2 separate regions of the Homo sapiens genome follow, and region 1 is linked to region 2. The links come from fine-mapping of genetic effects on gene expression. Tissue or cell type: whole blood. Region 2 holds a variant in brackets; the other region holds the start of a gene. All regions are shown on one strand. Distances are between the middles of the regions.

Region 1 (8,171 bases), 20 kb after region 2:
AGCAATCGGTAAAGTGAACACCTCAAAGGACGGGCCTAGAAGGCTGAGGGATGAGGAGCTGGGTGGGAGGGAAACTCGCTTTCATGGCATGCCCTTGTAGACTCTTCAGATTGTTTACCATGTGCAGGTATTTCCAGCTAGAAAGAGTTTAATTAAATGATCACTCCGGCTAACATATAGCAAGTGGACTACAGGAACAGGCAAGAGTATGTATAAGTTTCAGAAAACTATATGGAAAAGGCTTCATGACATGTCTCTAAGGGAAAGAAAACTAAAGTGCCACTGTACATTTTAATTTACACGCTCAGAAAAAAGGCTGGAGAATTACCCATTAGTCCTAAAGTGATGACAGGTGAGCAAGGGAATTACAAATGATTTTAACTGTCTTCTCTCTGATTTCCTGTTTTCCCCATGTTTTCTACATGAACATGTTATAACTTTAAAAATAAGGAAACGACATTTTTGGAAGGGGGAACGGGCCCACCTTATGCAGACTGGTCATGCCGTCGTCATCCACCACCCTGGGGTTGGACCCATGTGATAGCAGGAGCCGCGCGATTTCAGTGTGCCCGCAGTAGCTGGCTCGGTGCAGAGCAGTGGCACCCCCGTGGGTCTGGGCATCACACTTAGCTCCGCTTTCCAGCAGGAACTGGCACACAGCGTAGTGCCCATTGCGGCTGGCATAGTGCTGCAGGGAACAGAGACCGAGGTCAGATGGGAGAAGCCAGGCAGGTGACAAGGGTGGTATAGAGGTGAGAGCATGGCCTCCCTGCAGCGAGGGGCCTGGAATCATCTCAGGTGCCAACCCCAGCAGTCGTGTGACCTGGGCAAGCTTCTGCGTGACTAACCTGAGTTTGTTCAATTGAAAAATGGGGAAAATGATCATTCCTATCTCAAAGAATTGTTACGAAAATAAAACTAAATCATTGGCTGGGCGCAGTGGCTCATGCCTGTAATCCCAGCACTTTGGGAGGCCGAGGCAGGCGGATCACCTGAAGTCAGGAGTTCGAGACCAGCCTGGTCAACATGGTGAAAACCCATCTCTACTAAAAATACAAAAATTAGCTGGGTGTGGTGGCACATGCCTGTAGTCTCAGCTACTCAGGAGGCTGAGGCAGGAGAATCGCTTGAACCTGGGAGGCGGAGGTTGCAGTGAGCTGAGATCGCATCACTGCACTCCAGCCTGGGTAACAGAGCAAGACTTCATCTCAAAACAAAACAAAACCTAAATTATTGATGTAAAGGTCTCACACTAATTTAAAAAATCCAGGTTCATATGATGCTTAAAAAGAGAAATTTTGCTGGAAGAGAAGAAAGGGAGGGAGGAGGTAAAAGGTAACCATCAGTCCCCCTCCTCAGAGAGCAGGTGTCTCCTGAGTTAACGCTTCTGTCTCCTGACCCTGTGCTCCTCCCTAGCTCACCAGCGCAGTGTAGCCGGCCGAGTCGGGCTGACTTGGGTCCTCGGCCTTCTGGATTAAATGCTTCACTCGGCCCAGGTCTCCATTCAGGGCTGCCGACCAGATTCCTGCAGAAAGGCAACCAAAGGACTGAATGATGCTGAATGGGAGTTTCAGTGCTTGCTTTGCCTCTTGACCTCAGTTTTCTTGTCTATAAAGTGAAGAATATTCATTCCTTCAACAAATATCAACCGAGCACCTCCTCTGTGTCAAGGTTTGTTCTGAATGCTGGTGACTTAGCTGTGAACAAGACAGATGGGCACATCTCATCAGGACAGTAGGACTGGGCGGACACAGACATCTCCATCCCACTTCAAACACAGAAGTGCTGGATGAAGTAATGTTTAAAATGTTTGGATCTAGAGTGAAATTCAGGTCGGGCTGGGATTACAGGCGCCCACCACCATGCCCAGCAAATTTTTCTATTTTTAGTAGAGACAGGGTTTCACCATGTTGGTCAGGCTGGCCTTGAACTCCTGACCTCAAGTGATCCATTTGCCTTGGCCTCCCAAAGTGCTGGGATTACAGGCGTGAGCCACCGTGCCCAGCCAGAAACAACTTTTAAAAAATATAATGATGCCTCCAGAAGGCTGCCAAGGCAGTGTGACAATCTCCCACAGAAGAGGATCTCCCTGGTGAGCACAAAGACTGAAAGTTGCAAAACAAGAAGCAATCTGCTGCCCTAAGAGACAATCAGCAAATATAGGTGAGATGAGGGGAGTTCGGGGAGTTCAGGGTGGCATGGCGACAGACAACAACTAGCAAATACAAGTGGGAACACGCATGCCTCCAAAGTGAGCCATTATTGCACAATCCAAAAAAGACCTTAAAACAACAACATTGAAGGTGTTCACAGAGACAAAGGGATAGAATCCACAAATCAACAGAACATTAGGAAAAACAAAACAGCCAGATCTGAAACAGGAAAGTTGATAAATTAAAAAACAGACTCATTGAAACAAAACAACAACAATAGATGGGTCAAAGAGTACTGCAGACCTAGTCAAAGAGAATTAGTGATTTGGAATTCACCCAAAATGTAGTACAAAATGATAAATAGAAAAATATTGGCCAGGCGCAGTGGCTCACGCCTGTAATCCCAGCACTTTGGGAGGCCGAGGCGGGTGGATCACGAGGTCAGGAGATCGAGACCATCCTGGCTAACAGAGTAAAACCCCGTCTCTACTAAAAATACAAAAATTAGCTGGGCTTGGTGGCACGCGCCTGTAGTCCCAGCTACTCAGGGGGCTGAGGCAGAAGAATCGCGTGAACCCAGGAGGCAGAGGTTGCCGTGAGCCAAGATCGCACCACTGCACTCCAGCCTGGGCGACAGAGCGAGACTCCGTCTCAAAAAAAAAAAAAAAGATATATTACTGTGCGGATCACGAGGTCAGGAGATCAAGACCATCCTGGCTAACATGGTGAAACCTCATCTCTACTAAAAATACAAAACAAAATTAGCCGGGCATGGTGGCGGGCGCCTGTAGTCCCAGCTACTTGGGAGGCTGAGGCAGGAGAATGGCGTGAACCTGGGAGGTGGAGCTTGCAGTGAGCCGAGATTGCGCCACTAAAGCCTGGGGACAGAGCCAGACTCCGACTCAACAACAACAACAACAACAAAACAACAACAACAACAACAAAGAGTTACTGTAGTGAAGCGGATTAACAAATCTCACAGTTTCTTTTATTTGTGACAACAGTAGCTAAAACTGGCTTATCAAATACACTCTTCCCATTAATGTTTTAAAGAATGTATTTGTTTGCACAAAAAAATGAGGAAATTGTTTGCGGTAAAAATTGTTTTTTATGAAAGCAAGATGCCGGGTGCGGTGGCTCACGCCTGTAATCCTAGCACTTTGGGAGGTCAAAGCGGGCAGATCATGAGGTCAGGAGTTCCGAGATCAGCCTGACCAATATGGTGAAACCCCGGTCTCTACTAAAAATACAAAAACTAGCCGGGCGTCGTGGCACACGCCTGTAATCTCAGCTACTCAGGAGAATAGGAGAATCGCTTGAACCCAGGAGGCGGAGGCTGCAGTGAGCCGAGATTGCGCTACTGCACGCCAGCCTGGACAAAAGAGGGAGACTCCATCTCAAAAAAAAAAAAAAAAAAAGCAAGATGATGGATACATCAGAGTAACTGGCCTAACTTTGGATAAGGCAATGTTTACTTCTTAACAGCACAATTGACACTTACGGGCCGGATGATTATTGTAGCGAGCTGTCCTGTGCATTGTACCATGTATACAGCATCTCTCATCTCTACCTACTACACGCCTGTAGCACCCTCCTGATTGTGACAACCCAAAATGTCTCCAGATATTCAAAGTCCCTTAAAGGGCAGAACTGCCCCCAGTTGAGAACTGGGGTGTTTAGGGAGGGTCTCTGAGGAGATGACATTGGAGCTGGGATCTGAAGAAAAGCATCAGCTAGCTTAACGGTTGTAGGAAGTTCATTCTAAGGAGATGGGACAGCAAGTCCAACGGCCTTAACTCAGGAAAAGGTCTTGCATATTTGAGACACCAAAACAAGACCAGTGTGGCTGCGGCGTAGTGATTGGGGGAAGAAAAGCATGAGAAATAAAATGAGGAGGAGAAGTAGAACCGGCAGGGGTGGGTCTACAGAGCTTTGTAGGCCATAACAGGGAATGATGTGATTTCTAATTTTCAAAAAGCCGCTCTGGCTGCTATGTGAGAGTAGAAAACCCTGTAGGAAGGCAAGCGTGGAAGCAGAAAGACCCTCTGAGGCAACCACTTCAGCAGTGCAGAGGACAGCGGTAGGAGGGGCGGAGGGAAGTAGGCAGGTGCCAGAACCACGGTAAAGGAAGAGTTCCATGAGAATGCTTACACAGCAGTGGCAATCGAGGGCTGCATCCGCAAGGGCAGATGACACAGCACAGTGGTTCCCAACGCTCACAAGAAGCACCCTGGTTTCCCGCCTTCCTCTGTTCCTATTGGCACCATAATCTCTGTATAATCTGGGCCAAACGTGTTACCTCTCTGGGTCCCACAGATGAGATACTGTGCCCTGCCTCGAAGGCTGCCCGTGCGAAGCTCTTGCCATCTTTAAAGCATGCAGGCTGCCTGGCACCCGGGGCTAAACAAAGGCCACTGCTCTCCTTCACCGCGCAGCCCCCAGGCCTGCAGCTCCATGCCCCTCAGGTTGGGTGCAATGCCCCTGGTGCAGATTCTGCTCCCCGGGCCCTCTCTCAAACACCTGAGCAGGCTTGTGTCTCCCAGGGGAGGTCGTCCCCCGCTACTCGGGAGGGTTACGGAAACCAGTGCTTCCGCTTCCCCGCCGCCCGCGGGACAGGTGTCTCCTGGCCGAGCTCGTGCGGGGCCCTGGGAGGCTCTCAGTACACGGGAACCGTGGGTCCCGCCCGCCTTCCCGCACCAGGCCCCAAGCCCCAAGCCCCAAGCTCTCGGGGCCCCGTTCATCCGCCTCTCCTTGGCCCCACGCCTCCTCCTTGGGCCGGGGCCTGGTGAGAACCACGAGGGCCGCGCGGCAGCCTCACCCCTCTCGAAGTCCATCTCCTCCAGCGTCTGCTGTACGCCGAGCACCGCGCTGGGATGCGAGCAGCAGGGCCCGTCCGCGCAGGGCCGAGGCGTCGCCATCCCGGCCCCGGCGTCAGTCGATCCGCCCCGGGTCTCAGGCTCAGCCTCGGCGGGAGGGGCGGACGCAGGGCCCGCCCCGCGTCCCTGATCTGGCCGCTCGGCGTCCGCGGCTGTCGCCCTAGTCCCGCCTTCTCGCCAAAGCTGACCAATCAAACGCCTAGGCCTTAGCTCGAGAACCAATTGCAACGGTAGGGCGGGGCTTGTTGCGCCCGGCCGTGCCCCGAGGCCTCCGCGCGAGGGCGTCCAAGGCCAAGCGAGGACTGAGGCGCTGGGTTCCGGGAGCCGCGCGCCGCTGGAGGGCCGCCGGGCCGCCTGGCCTTGCAGGGTGTGGGGATGAGGCAGCTGGGTCCGGTCGGGAGCTTTCCCGTTACCTTCGCCATGACCCAGCCGTCCAGCGACCTCGCAGCCTCCTCTCTTTACCGCCCCTAGTCCCTAGGGCAGGGAGGCGCCACGCGCTCCGCGGTCTTTTTTTTTTTTTTTTTTTTTTTTGAGACGGAGTCTCGCTGTCACCCAGACTTGTGTGCAGTGGCGCGATCTCGGCTCACTGCAACCTCCGCCTCCCGGGTTCAAGCGATTCTCCTGCGTCAGACTCCTGAGTAGCTGGGACTACAGGCGCCCGCCACCACGCCCGGCTAATTTTTTGTATTTTTTAGTAGAGACGGGGTTTCGCCAGGATGGTCTCGATCTCTTGACCTCGTGATCCGCTCACCTTGGCCTCCCAAAGTGCTGGGATTACAGGCGTGAGCCATCGGGCCGGGGCGCGCTCCACGGTTTTTAGCCCCTCTTCCTGGCACCACCCCGGACCAAGGCCGACCGCCCCCGGGGCAGCGGCAAAGTGACGGCTGGAAAGGCCTCGAGACGCCCCTCCCCGTACCCTGCTCTTCCTTACAAGTCCAGCAAGGGGCAGGTGGCCACAACTTGTCCTGCCTGTAGCTCCACCTCAGGGCAGGGGCAGGGCCTTGGTTTGTGCAGAACCCCCTGGCCCCACAGTGGGCGCTGAGTTTACGGAATCGGTCTTCATGATCAAAACCCACCGGGAGGCCGTCTGCGGACCGCGCACCTTCGCAGCGTGCTCCTCAGCGGACCCCAGCCTTCTCAATTCCCAGTTAAAACCCAGGCAGCTGCCTGCTCAAGCCACGATCAAGTGTACAGGGGAGACCGCCTGATCGGCTTAGAAAGAGTGCATGAACGACAGAATGCAGGTTGGGTTCTGTGCCAGTCCCTCTCCAGGACAGTGGTCTGGTGCACACTGGATGTAAGTTCCTTCCCCCGCTAGTTGGGGCACGGAAGACCCTAGCATTCCTGGTGGGTAGAAGGCTGGAAGTCGTTTCTCCTCCCCTAAGCAGGTTGAGAACCCCATCCTCACACAAGCAATGATCTCATCTCCACAACCTTCCACTCCTTTGGCCCCTCATTCCCACTACCCGTCTTGAGTTCTGGGAAGGCACCCCCCCCACCACTCCGCTTCTCCCCTGGACTCCCAGTGCCCTGACTTCTCCTTCTGGCCAGAAGCCAAGGCTGGCTCCCAAGGGGCTATGGCCATGGTCTCGTTCCCAGCCCCGCAGCCACCACTGTGGGAAAACACTAGAGCTGGGCTGTCCCCTCCCACAGGCAGGCAGGGACCACAAAAGTGGTGGCTGCCCTGGGATTGTGGGGGAGGCCCAGTCCAGCCTCCCTCCACCCAGAGAGCCTTCCCTCTTGGTACCCAGAAAGGCTTTAGCCCAAACATCTTAGCCCCATCAGAGCAATCGTTTCATTTTCTCCATTTTATTTGTCAATATAAAAATACTCAAATATTTACAACAAATAAATACGCGGGGACACAATAAGTTACACTGTTAGGAGCCCTCCTCCTAGGGCTGGAAGAGAGTATGCCATTGTCCACAGCAGGCCCACCCTCTCCCTTCTCTCCCCTCACACAGCCTTTCCCAGCCCTGTACAGGAAGAAGGCAAGTATAAAATACCACTGAACCCCGGGGCCAAGTGGGAGGCCCCACCCACCCTTCCCCCCAAACACACAGGAGGCTCCATCTCCCTCCCCCCACCCTGAAAACATTCACAGCCCTAGGAGCAGGACTAGGCCCACCCCAAGCCCTGCACTCCCTCTGAAGGGGCACAGCACCCTGTCCACCCCACCTCCATATGTACATCGCTGCCCGACACTCGGGGCAGTGGGGGTAGGAGAGACAAAGTGATACGACCCCTTCCCCTTCATAGCTCCAATGACTCACCAGGAGGACCCAGGCCAAGGGAAGACTTGACAGAAACAGGAAGGCTATGCCACAAGCGCGCACGCGCGTGCACACACACATACACACACACACAAACACATGTGCAAATACAGACAAACACACATCTTGAAACTTCTGCCTTGAAAAGTTTTGGCGGCTGGGGTCCCGCGTGTCTGTGATTCACAGAGAGGAGGAAGATGCCTTCTGCGAGGCTGGTGCCCTGGTGAGCCACACCAAGTGGCAGTGCCCGTGCTGAGCAGAGCAGGTCCTCATGGCCGGGTGGGTGCTGGGCAGTATCTGTCCCAGACAGAGCAGGTGCCCGTGCCATGTCCCTGAGGTAGCTGGTGCCTGTGCAAAAGTAGGAGCTACACCTCCCACGCTTCCCGCCGACGCGGTGGGGGTTCCCCTCATACTGATGACTCCTCGGGGTTGGAGTCGGGCAGTGGCTGGCGTTGCTGCAGTTTGCGTCTCAGTTCATCCGCGAGCTCAGGCAGGGGGTGCCCGAGCCCTCCCCGGTCCTCCCCTCCTAGTTGTAAGCGCACGTAACCATTGGCATTTGAGTTCCGCCCACCCCCCAGGTGAAGCCGAGTTGGAGAAGGCAGAGGCTGGCCTGGGATGCCTGGAGGTGGCGAAGGGGGCCCCCCACCGGGCTGGCACCGGGCATGCCCAGGTACTATCTTAAGGGAGCCATCTGAATAGTAGTAACCGACAGGATCCCAAAGTTTCTCATCTGGTTCAGGACAGGGCCGGAAGGGGGGACTGGTGGGCTCCTTGGGCAGCTCCAGGGGGTACACCAAGGTCCTCTCAGTAGCCTTGGCCCCTTTCTCCAGCTCTTCCCGCAGCCGCCGGCGCAATGACAGCACCAGCAG
Region 2 (8,143 bases):
AGCAAGCCGAGAGCACCCATTTTGGCTGGGGGTTCAGATCGATGGCCTTGTCCATGTTGTCCTTTCTGGCTTCCCTGATGGTGTCATGTTTCAGCGCATGCGCCCCAGCCTTTCCCATGTGCCAAACCAGAAGCTCCACTGCCCGTAGGCTGTCCCTGTAGCCCTGCTCCCTCCCTGGAGGCTGCTCTTCTGATTCTGAGAGCTGGCCTAGTGGTGCTGAGGGCCCCTTTCTGCTTCTCTGCCCACCTGCTGAGTTGCCACTCGCAGTGTTGTCAGTTCCCGTGTTCTGAGAAGAGGTCATGCCTGGGAGGAAGGGATCGTCATGCTGCATCGAATCCTCTCTCCGCCGTGTGGCCCCCAGGAGAGTAGCTGCCTGTTGCACCTGCTCCACACCTCCCCACAGCCTCCCTGCAGGTGCTGTGTGGCCGTGATGTGCAGAGAGCAGTGAGGGAGGGTTCATGAACCAGGTGGATCCTCTTTAAAAAAAAAAAAGTTTTTGTTATATCTCTAGAACATTTCAAGTCTTTTCCTTTTTTTCTGTTCCTAGCTATGGGGTTTTAGAGAAGTGGGAACAGGAAGGCATTTGTCTTTTTCTTCTAGTTTACTACATTTTCCTTCCGTAGTTCTTCAGCTGTGTGGAAACGGGCATCACAAGGACATAGGATCATAGATTGGGTAGGGAGGGAGGAGGATTTCTGGAACTTTTCTCAAAGGAATTTGGACCCTTATAAATGGGACTGAAGGTCAAAACAACAGTGATATCCTTGCTTAGAAATTGTCCTCAAGGAATAAACTCTGAGAGCAAGCCCGGGTTGGAAACAGATGCTTTAAAATCCTCTCTCCAGAACAGTGGTTTTTTGTTTGTTTATTTGAGATGGAGTCTCACTCTGTCACCCAGGCTGGAGTGCAGTGGTGAGATCTTGGCTCACTGCAACCTCCACCTCCCAGGTTCAAGCCATTCTCCTGTCTCAGCCCCCTGAGTAGCTGGGATTACAGGTGCCCACCACCACACCCGGCTAATTTTTGTATTTTTAGTAGAGATGGGGTTTCACCATGTTGGCCAGGCTGATCTTGAACTCCTGACCTCAGGTGATCTGCCTGCCTTGGCCTCCCAAAGTGCTGGGATTATAGGTGTGAGCTAAGATCAGGGATTCTTAACCTTGGCTGCACACCAGAATCACCTGGCAAATTAAAAATACGTGGACCTGCCACCAGAGCTTGTGATTTAATCAGAGTCGGCATCAGAGTTTTCAATTTTTTATTTATTTATTATTATTATTATTATTATTATTATTATTGAGACAAGATCTTGCTCTGTCGCCCAGACTGGAGTGCAGTGGTGTGATCACGGCTTGCTGCAGCCTCGACCTCCCTGGTTCAGGCCATCCTGCCACCTCAGCCTCCTGAGTAGTAGGGACTACAGGTAGGCACCACCACACCCAGCTAATACTTTTAATTTTTTTTTGTAGAGATAGGGTCTCATTATGTTGCCTGGGGTAGTCTCGAACTCCTAGGCTCAAGCGATCCTCCTGCCTCGGCCTCCCAAAGTGTTGAGATTATAGGCGTGAGCCACCGTGCCCAGATTCACAGAAGTTTCATACACCTTTCACCCAGGTTCCCCTAATGTTAACAGCTTACATATAACCTTGGTACATTTATCAAAACTAAAGGTGCAATCATACTAATAGCTAGAGTTTATTTGGATTTTACCATTTTTCCCAATGTCCCTTTTCTGCTGCAGCAGCCAATCCAGGATGCCATACTGCACTTAGAGCTGTTGCTTTCTTTTTTCCTAACTTTATATTTTGAAATAATTTCAGATGATAGGAAGTTGTAAAGGTAAGGGCCCCACGCACCCTTCATCTAGTTTCCCTCCATGGTTACATCTTATATGGTTGTAATGCAGTATTCCAACAAAGACTCTGACACTGGTGCGATGTGGGTGGACAGTCCAAATCATTTGTCACATGTACATCTGTGTAACTACCACTGCAATCAGGATAAAGAAGTCCCATCCCCACAAGGATCTCCCTCCCCACCTTCCCTAACTCCTGGTAACCACTAATCGTTCATCTCTTCTTATTTTGTCATTTCAAGAATGTTGTATAAATGGGAGCATAGTGTGTAAGCATTCGGGATTGTCTTTTTTCACTCGGCGTCATTCTCGGGAGATCATCCAGGCATTGCATGTGTCAACAGTTTGCTCCTTTTTATTGCTGAGTGGTATTCCGTGGTGTATGCATTGGCCCCCTGAAGGACACCTGGGATGTTTCCAGTTTGGGGCTATTCCAAATAAAGCTGCTACGACTATTCATGTACAGGTTTCTGTGTCAGGATTAGTTTTCGAGGAGTGTAAATGCTTGGTCATAGGGTTGTTGCATGTTTCGTTTTTTAAACAATCAAACTTTTTTTTTTTTTTTTTGAGACGGAGTCTCACTCTTTTGCCCAGGCTGGAGTGCAGTGGCGCAGTCTCGGCTCACTGCAAGCTCTGCCTCCCGGGTTCATGCCATTCTCCTGCCTCAGCCTCCCCATAGCTGGGACTACAGGCGCCCGCCACCACGCCCGGCTAGTTTTTTGTATTTTTAGTAGAGACGGGGTTTCACCATGTTAGCCAGGATGGTCTCGATCTCCTGACTTCGTGATCTGCCCGCCTCAGCCTCCCAAAGTTCTGGGATTACAGGCGTGAGCCACCGCACCTGGCCACAAACTGTCAAACTCATGTCCTCACCGGCAACCTAGGATGATCAGTTTCCCTGAATCCTCCACAGCACTTAGTGGTGTCCACATGTTTTTACTTCAGCCGTTCTGACAGGTGTGTCGTGATGCCTCACGGTGGTTTTTCATTTGCATTTCCCAGTGGTGGACACCTGTGTTTCGCTTCAGTGGAATATTCCTGTCTTTCACCCATTTTCTGATTGGATTGTTTCTTCTGTTGAGTTTTGAGAGTTCTTTGAGATTCCTTTATGGGATTTTTGGTTTCCATTGGTCTGTAGCTTATCTTTTTCACCCCTCCCCCTCCCCCCCTTTTTTTTTTCCTGAGACAGAGTCTCACTTTGTCACCCATGGTGGAGTGCAGTGGCACAATCTTGGCTCACTGTATACTTGACTTCTGGACTCAAGCAGTTCTCCCTCTTCAGCTCCCCATGTAGATGGGACTATCACCACAC[C/T]CAGCTAATTTTTTTTTTTTTTTTTTTTGAGATGTAGTTTCACTCTTGTTGCCCAGGCTGGAGTTCAATGGCGTGGTCTCGGCTCACTGCAACCTCCGCCTCCCAGTTCAAGTGATTCTACTGCCTCAGCCTCCCGAGTAGCTGGGATTACAGGCATGTGCCACCACGCCTGGCTAATTTTGTATTTTCAGTAGAGATGGGGTTTCTCCATGTTGGTCAGGCTGGTCTCAAACTCCTGACCTCAGATGATCTGCCCGCCTCAGCCTACCAAAGTGCTGGAATTATAGGCATGAGCCACCATGCCCAGCCTATGCCCAGCTAATTTTTTATAGAGATGGGGTTTCACCATGTTGCCCACACCTGGTCTCAAACTCATGAGCTCAAGTGATCTGCCTGCCTCAACCTCCCAAAGTACTACAATTACAGGTGTGAGCCACCGTGCCCGGCCATCTTTTCACCCTCTTAACAGGGTTTTATACAGAGCAAAAGTTTTCAGTTTTGATAAAGTCCACTTTACTGATATTTCCTTTATGGACTGTTGCTTTTAGTGTTGCATTTAAGAACAACTCTACCTAGTCTTAGATCCCAAAGGTTATCTGTTTTTTCCTAAAAGAAGTTTTATAGTTTTAAATTTAAGTATGCATGTGAGCCATGTTAATTTTTGTATAATGTGTAAGACTTAGGCTAAAGTTCTTTTTTTTTAATCCTATAGCTGGTCCAGCTGCTCCAGCACCGTTTGTTGAAAGGCTGTCCTTCCTCCATTGAATTACTTTTGCACCTTAAAGTCAGCTGGGCATATTTGTGTGGTCCTGTTCCCGTGATGATCTCGGCTCTGTCGATCTGTGTGTCTGTGCCTCTGCCAGCATTGCACTCTTGGTTCACATAGCTATATAGTAGATCTTGAAATCAGCTGGACTGATTCCTCCTCTCACTCTATTCTTTTTCAAAATATTTTTGCTATAAATTTGTATATGAATTTTAGAATAACCTTGTCTACATCTACAAAACATCTTCTAGGATTTTGATAGGAACTGCATTTAACCTGTATGTTAATTTGAGGAGAATTGATATCTTTACTGTATTCTGTCTAGCAATCCATGAACATGGCATGTCTATTTAAATCTTTGATTTCATCACGTTTTATAATTTTCAGCATACAAGTCCTTGCATATTTTGTTAGATTTAAACCGAAGTATTTCCCTTTTTCAGCAATTGTAAACAGTACATATTTTTAACTTTTGTGTCTACATGTTCATTTCTAGGAGGTAGAAACAGGTTTTTGTGTGTTTATCTTGCACCCGAGATTTTGCTGGACTCCCTAGTTGTCTGCTTTCTGTAGATTCCTAGGATTTCCCACATAGACAAGCATGGCCTCTGCATGAGAATACCTGGATCCTCCCCTCAGGGCTTCTGACTTAGGGTCTGGACATCAGGACTTTTTAAACCTTCCTGGTGATTCTGATAAGCAGCTGAGGTGGAGAACCACTGCTCTTTGACCTTGTCGTCAGTGAGCAGAGGTGCCTTAAGCACAAAAGCCTAGTGCCAGGACCCCGCATCCCGCCCACTCTGCACTCGGCCTATCTTGCTGTCGGCCGGCATGGCTAACAGGCGTGGGCCCTATCAGACAGTCCCTGGTGACTGAAGCATGGGCTCCTCTCGGCCCAGGAAAGACGGCTAGGCTGTAATGGATAGCCAGTTTTAATGAACAGAGGATACTGATTGGTATAAAAAGGTGTGTTTGTCACTGAGGTGTCCTCATTTTCTAGATGAGGAGTTGTCTTCTCCATGGTCTTGAACGCCTGCTTCGCCATGGCACCAGCGTCTGGGTGCACGCTGGCTGTCGCCACAGGGCAGGAGCTGCTCATGGAAAGGTGTGTGCCCCTAGTGTGCAGCACTGGTCAGCTTTTCCACATAGTAACAACAGCCTTGTTCTGGGCCTGAGAAGGCCCCCAAAGGTAGACGAAAAGGAACCATGGCCAAATGCCTATCAATCAGCCCGGTACCTAATGTAACCCAGGACCCATGTGAGGGAGGCTGAGCCTTCACCTTTCAGCCCTTCCCTCAGCATGTGGTTCTCAGTTTAGGGCAGAGCTTCTTAAGATTCACTTTCTGGCGTTTAGGGGCCCAGCCCCACCAGCAGTACAGGCCTACACCAGTGTAATTTGAAACGTACAGACGGTGGAAGAGGAAGTCTAGGGAGCTTGGGTCCTTAGACCACCAGGGAGCAGGGAAGGGATGGGAAGGGCTGGGGGGCGGCGGGGGCTCACCTTCCTCTGCTTCCCTGTGGGCTGGGTTCAGAGCTCCTCAGTGTCCTGGCCTCCCAGGTGGGATCAAGCAGGGTGGGTGCAGCTGCAGCGTTCCAGGCAAGAGCTCAAGCTCCAGTACCAGGAACATAAGGGGACATAAGGGCCTCAGGCAAACTAGGGTTACGGGCCACTGCCCCAAGAGTTGAGTGGGCCACAAGCAATCCCCAGTGCCCAGGCGCTTCCCCATGAGAGCCGCCAGCAGGCAACGGTGTGCCAGGCCGGCCTGAGCGGGGCCAGTACACAGTGGGTGCGAGGCTTCTCTCAAATGCGCGCTCCAGCTCATCAGTCTTAGGGCTTCTGAGGCAACCTAGTGGGTCCTGGACTTCTGTTGCTGTGGGGCCTCAAACCTGTTGAGTAGCCACCTCAGATGACCAGAACCCACCTCCAGAGTTCCTATGACCAAAGTTGTCTAGAGCCGCTCCGGACACTGCCAGGGTTGCTACTGACAGGAATGGGGTCCCCAGAGAAAGCCATGCCCACAGGCATCCACCAGCTGCAGACAGGCCCGGCCCCTGCATGGCCTGCCTTGGCTGCACCTTGTACATCCTGGATGGCATCTGCCGGCCACGGGCTGAGTCCCCACACACACAGACTGGCCCTGGAGAGAGCAAGGCAAGCCCCCTAACCTGGGACAAGTGGACACTGAGGACTCCCAGACCCAGCCCTGGGTGGCTCCAGCTTGGGACTGCTCCCTTAAGGCTCGTTCTTGGCCCTCACTCTCCTCCCCTTCCTGGCCCTCATCTGGACCCGCGCTTTCTGCTGCCTTGTGGTCCTCTGCTCCAGCCCTGGGAGGGAACGCGGCTCCCCTGACACTCGAAGCCAGGGAGGCCTCTCTCTTTGCCTGCTGGGCCCGGTGCCGCTCTTCAGTTCTGCCAGGGCTGCTGAGGCGGCACAGGCCAGAGAGGGAGGAACCAGGGCTGAGGGCAGGAACCACAGAGGTGCAGACGCGGGGGCGGGGCACAGGATGGAATGGTGGCAGTGCGAAAGGCGCGGCGGGGGGCGGTGCTGCGGTCAGCACCGGGTGCGGGGATGCGCCACGTGGGCCTGCAGGGCCTCCCGGATGCCGCGCTGCCAGTCTCGAGCCAGCTGCACCGGGGTCACGGAGGCCTGGGAGCAACGGTGTGGGTCAGTCCCTTGCAGGCGCTCCACCCGCCCTCGGGTCAGGAGCCAGGGCTGCGCCCACACTCACCGCGTTCCGCACCCCCAGCTCGGCCCCATAGAGCAGCAGTAGCTTCATGGCTTTGTAGCTGCCGTGCCGCACGGCCTCGTGCAGAGCCGTGTCCCCTTCCTGCTGAGAACGCAGGCAGTCAAGCTTCTGCCTCCGCGTGCTGCCCTCCTCATGCAGGAAGGTCAGGGCTGCTGTCACCGAGCAGACAGCACCTCTGGTCCTGGCTGGGGCTCCTCAGTCCCTGCTCCTCTGGAGCTGTCCGAGCCGGAAAAGACCAAGCGCCTGCCTTACCTTATCCTGTGCGTTCAGGTGGGCGCCACACTCGATGAGGTGCTCCAGGCAGTCGGGGTGCCGGGTGCGCACTGCCACGTGCAGGGGGGTGCTCCCGATCTGAGAGCAAGTGGGGGTCAGTGCTGGGTCTGGATTGGTGAGGCCTCCCTAACCCATGGGACTACGTGCTCTCTTCTCCAGGAACAGCGTCTGCTCCCGTGTTCCCGACAGGCCCCCAAAGCACCGTGCCCCTCACCTTGTCCCGGGCATTGACCCGGGCTCCCTGGTTAAGCAGCTGTTTGAGGATGACCAGATGTCCTCCGCGGCAGGCCCAGAACACAGGTGTCCTGTCCAGCTGCAAAACAAAAGCACCCAAGCACTCAGCTGCTGGGATGTGAAGCTGGGCGTCGACCAGAGGCTGGGCCTTTCCCCATCCTCACCAAGTCTCGCGCGTCCACTGTGGCACCTGCCACCAGCAGCTTGTTCACCAGCTGGCTGTGACCCTTCAGACAGGCCCAGTGCAAGGCGGTGCGGTGGAGCTGAGGGCAGAGATGGAAGATTAGGCAGAGGGAGTGCAGCCACCCCTAGAGACCCCACGCGGTCCCCTTCCCAGGGCCAGGTCCCTGAATGGAATTGCCACTTCCCCCACCACGCGATGGGCCGCTCCCTCTCCTCCGTCTGCAGGTGCCACTGGATTCATGCCCATAAGAGTGAAAATCCCTGCAGCCTCCTAGGCCAGGACTTGAACACACTGAAGGCAGCGCTCCTGCAGCTGCAGCTGCTGCCAGCCGACTCACCCAACCTGTGCTACCTTGTCATGGGCATTGGGGTCCCCTCCGTCTGTCAAGTACTTGTCAATCAGGTACTCCTGGTTCTCAGCAGCTGCCTTCAGGAACATCTCCAGGCCCACAGGCTCCACCTGGGCCTGGGACTGCGGCTGGTTCAGTTGAAGACAAGACCAAATCACTCCCGAAGGCCGCAGGTGCCCAAGATGTCACAGCTTCACCAGTCTGGCCCACGGGTCCCATGCAGCCCACCAAGGAACACTGCTGGCTCGTACTAATGCAGTTTCTTATTCTAATCCCACGCCAGGAGATTGAATAGACTGTGTGTGTGTGAGCGTGTGTGTTATGGATTGACTTGTATCTCCCCAAGATTCGTATGAAGTACTAACCCCAGGTACCTCAGAATGTGACCTTATTTGGAAACAGAGTCACTGAGGATGTAATTAG

What was found. PIP is the estimated chance that this variant, and not a neighbour inherited with it, causes the effect.
Region 1: ANKRD39 starts here. The variant in region 2 is fine-mapped to the expression of ANKRD39 in whole blood (TOPMed, PIP 0.96).

What each region holds. Positions count from the first base shown.
Region 1 is chr2:96,852,917-96,861,087 of GRCh38, forward strand. It overlaps ANKRD39 (ankyrin repeat domain 39), which reads right to left and starts at 5,100. Exons shown (of 4, transcript NM_016466.6): 1 at 4,972-5,100; 2 at 1,422-1,525; 3 at 485-688. The coding sequence starts at 5,071. It overlaps SEMA4C (semaphorin 4C), which reads right to left. Exons shown (of 15, transcript NM_017789.5): 15 at 6,802-8,171. The coding sequence ends at 7,710. RefSeq lists silencers at 4,761-4,930, 4,961-5,630.
Region 2 is chr2:96,833,065-96,841,207 of GRCh38, forward strand. CNNM3 (cyclin and CBS domain divalent metal cation transport mediator 3) reads left to right here. Exons shown (of 8, transcript NM_017623.5): 8 at 1-2,318. ANKRD23 (ankyrin repeat domain 23) reads right to left here. Exons shown (of 9, transcript NM_144994.8): 4 at 7,723-7,848; 5 at 7,352-7,450; 6 at 7,168-7,266; 7 at 6,933-7,031; 8 at 6,663-6,761; 9 at 4,848-6,580. The coding sequence ends at 6,485. It overlaps LOC124907859 (a long non-coding RNA gene), which reads right to left and starts at 1,325. Exons shown (of 2, transcript XR_007087143.1): 1 at 247-1,325. RefSeq lists enhancers at 1-431, 94-713, 4,261-4,817, 4,818-5,372 and silencers at 6,512-6,571, 6,712-6,811. The variant C/T (reference allele first, on the strand shown) is at 3,168.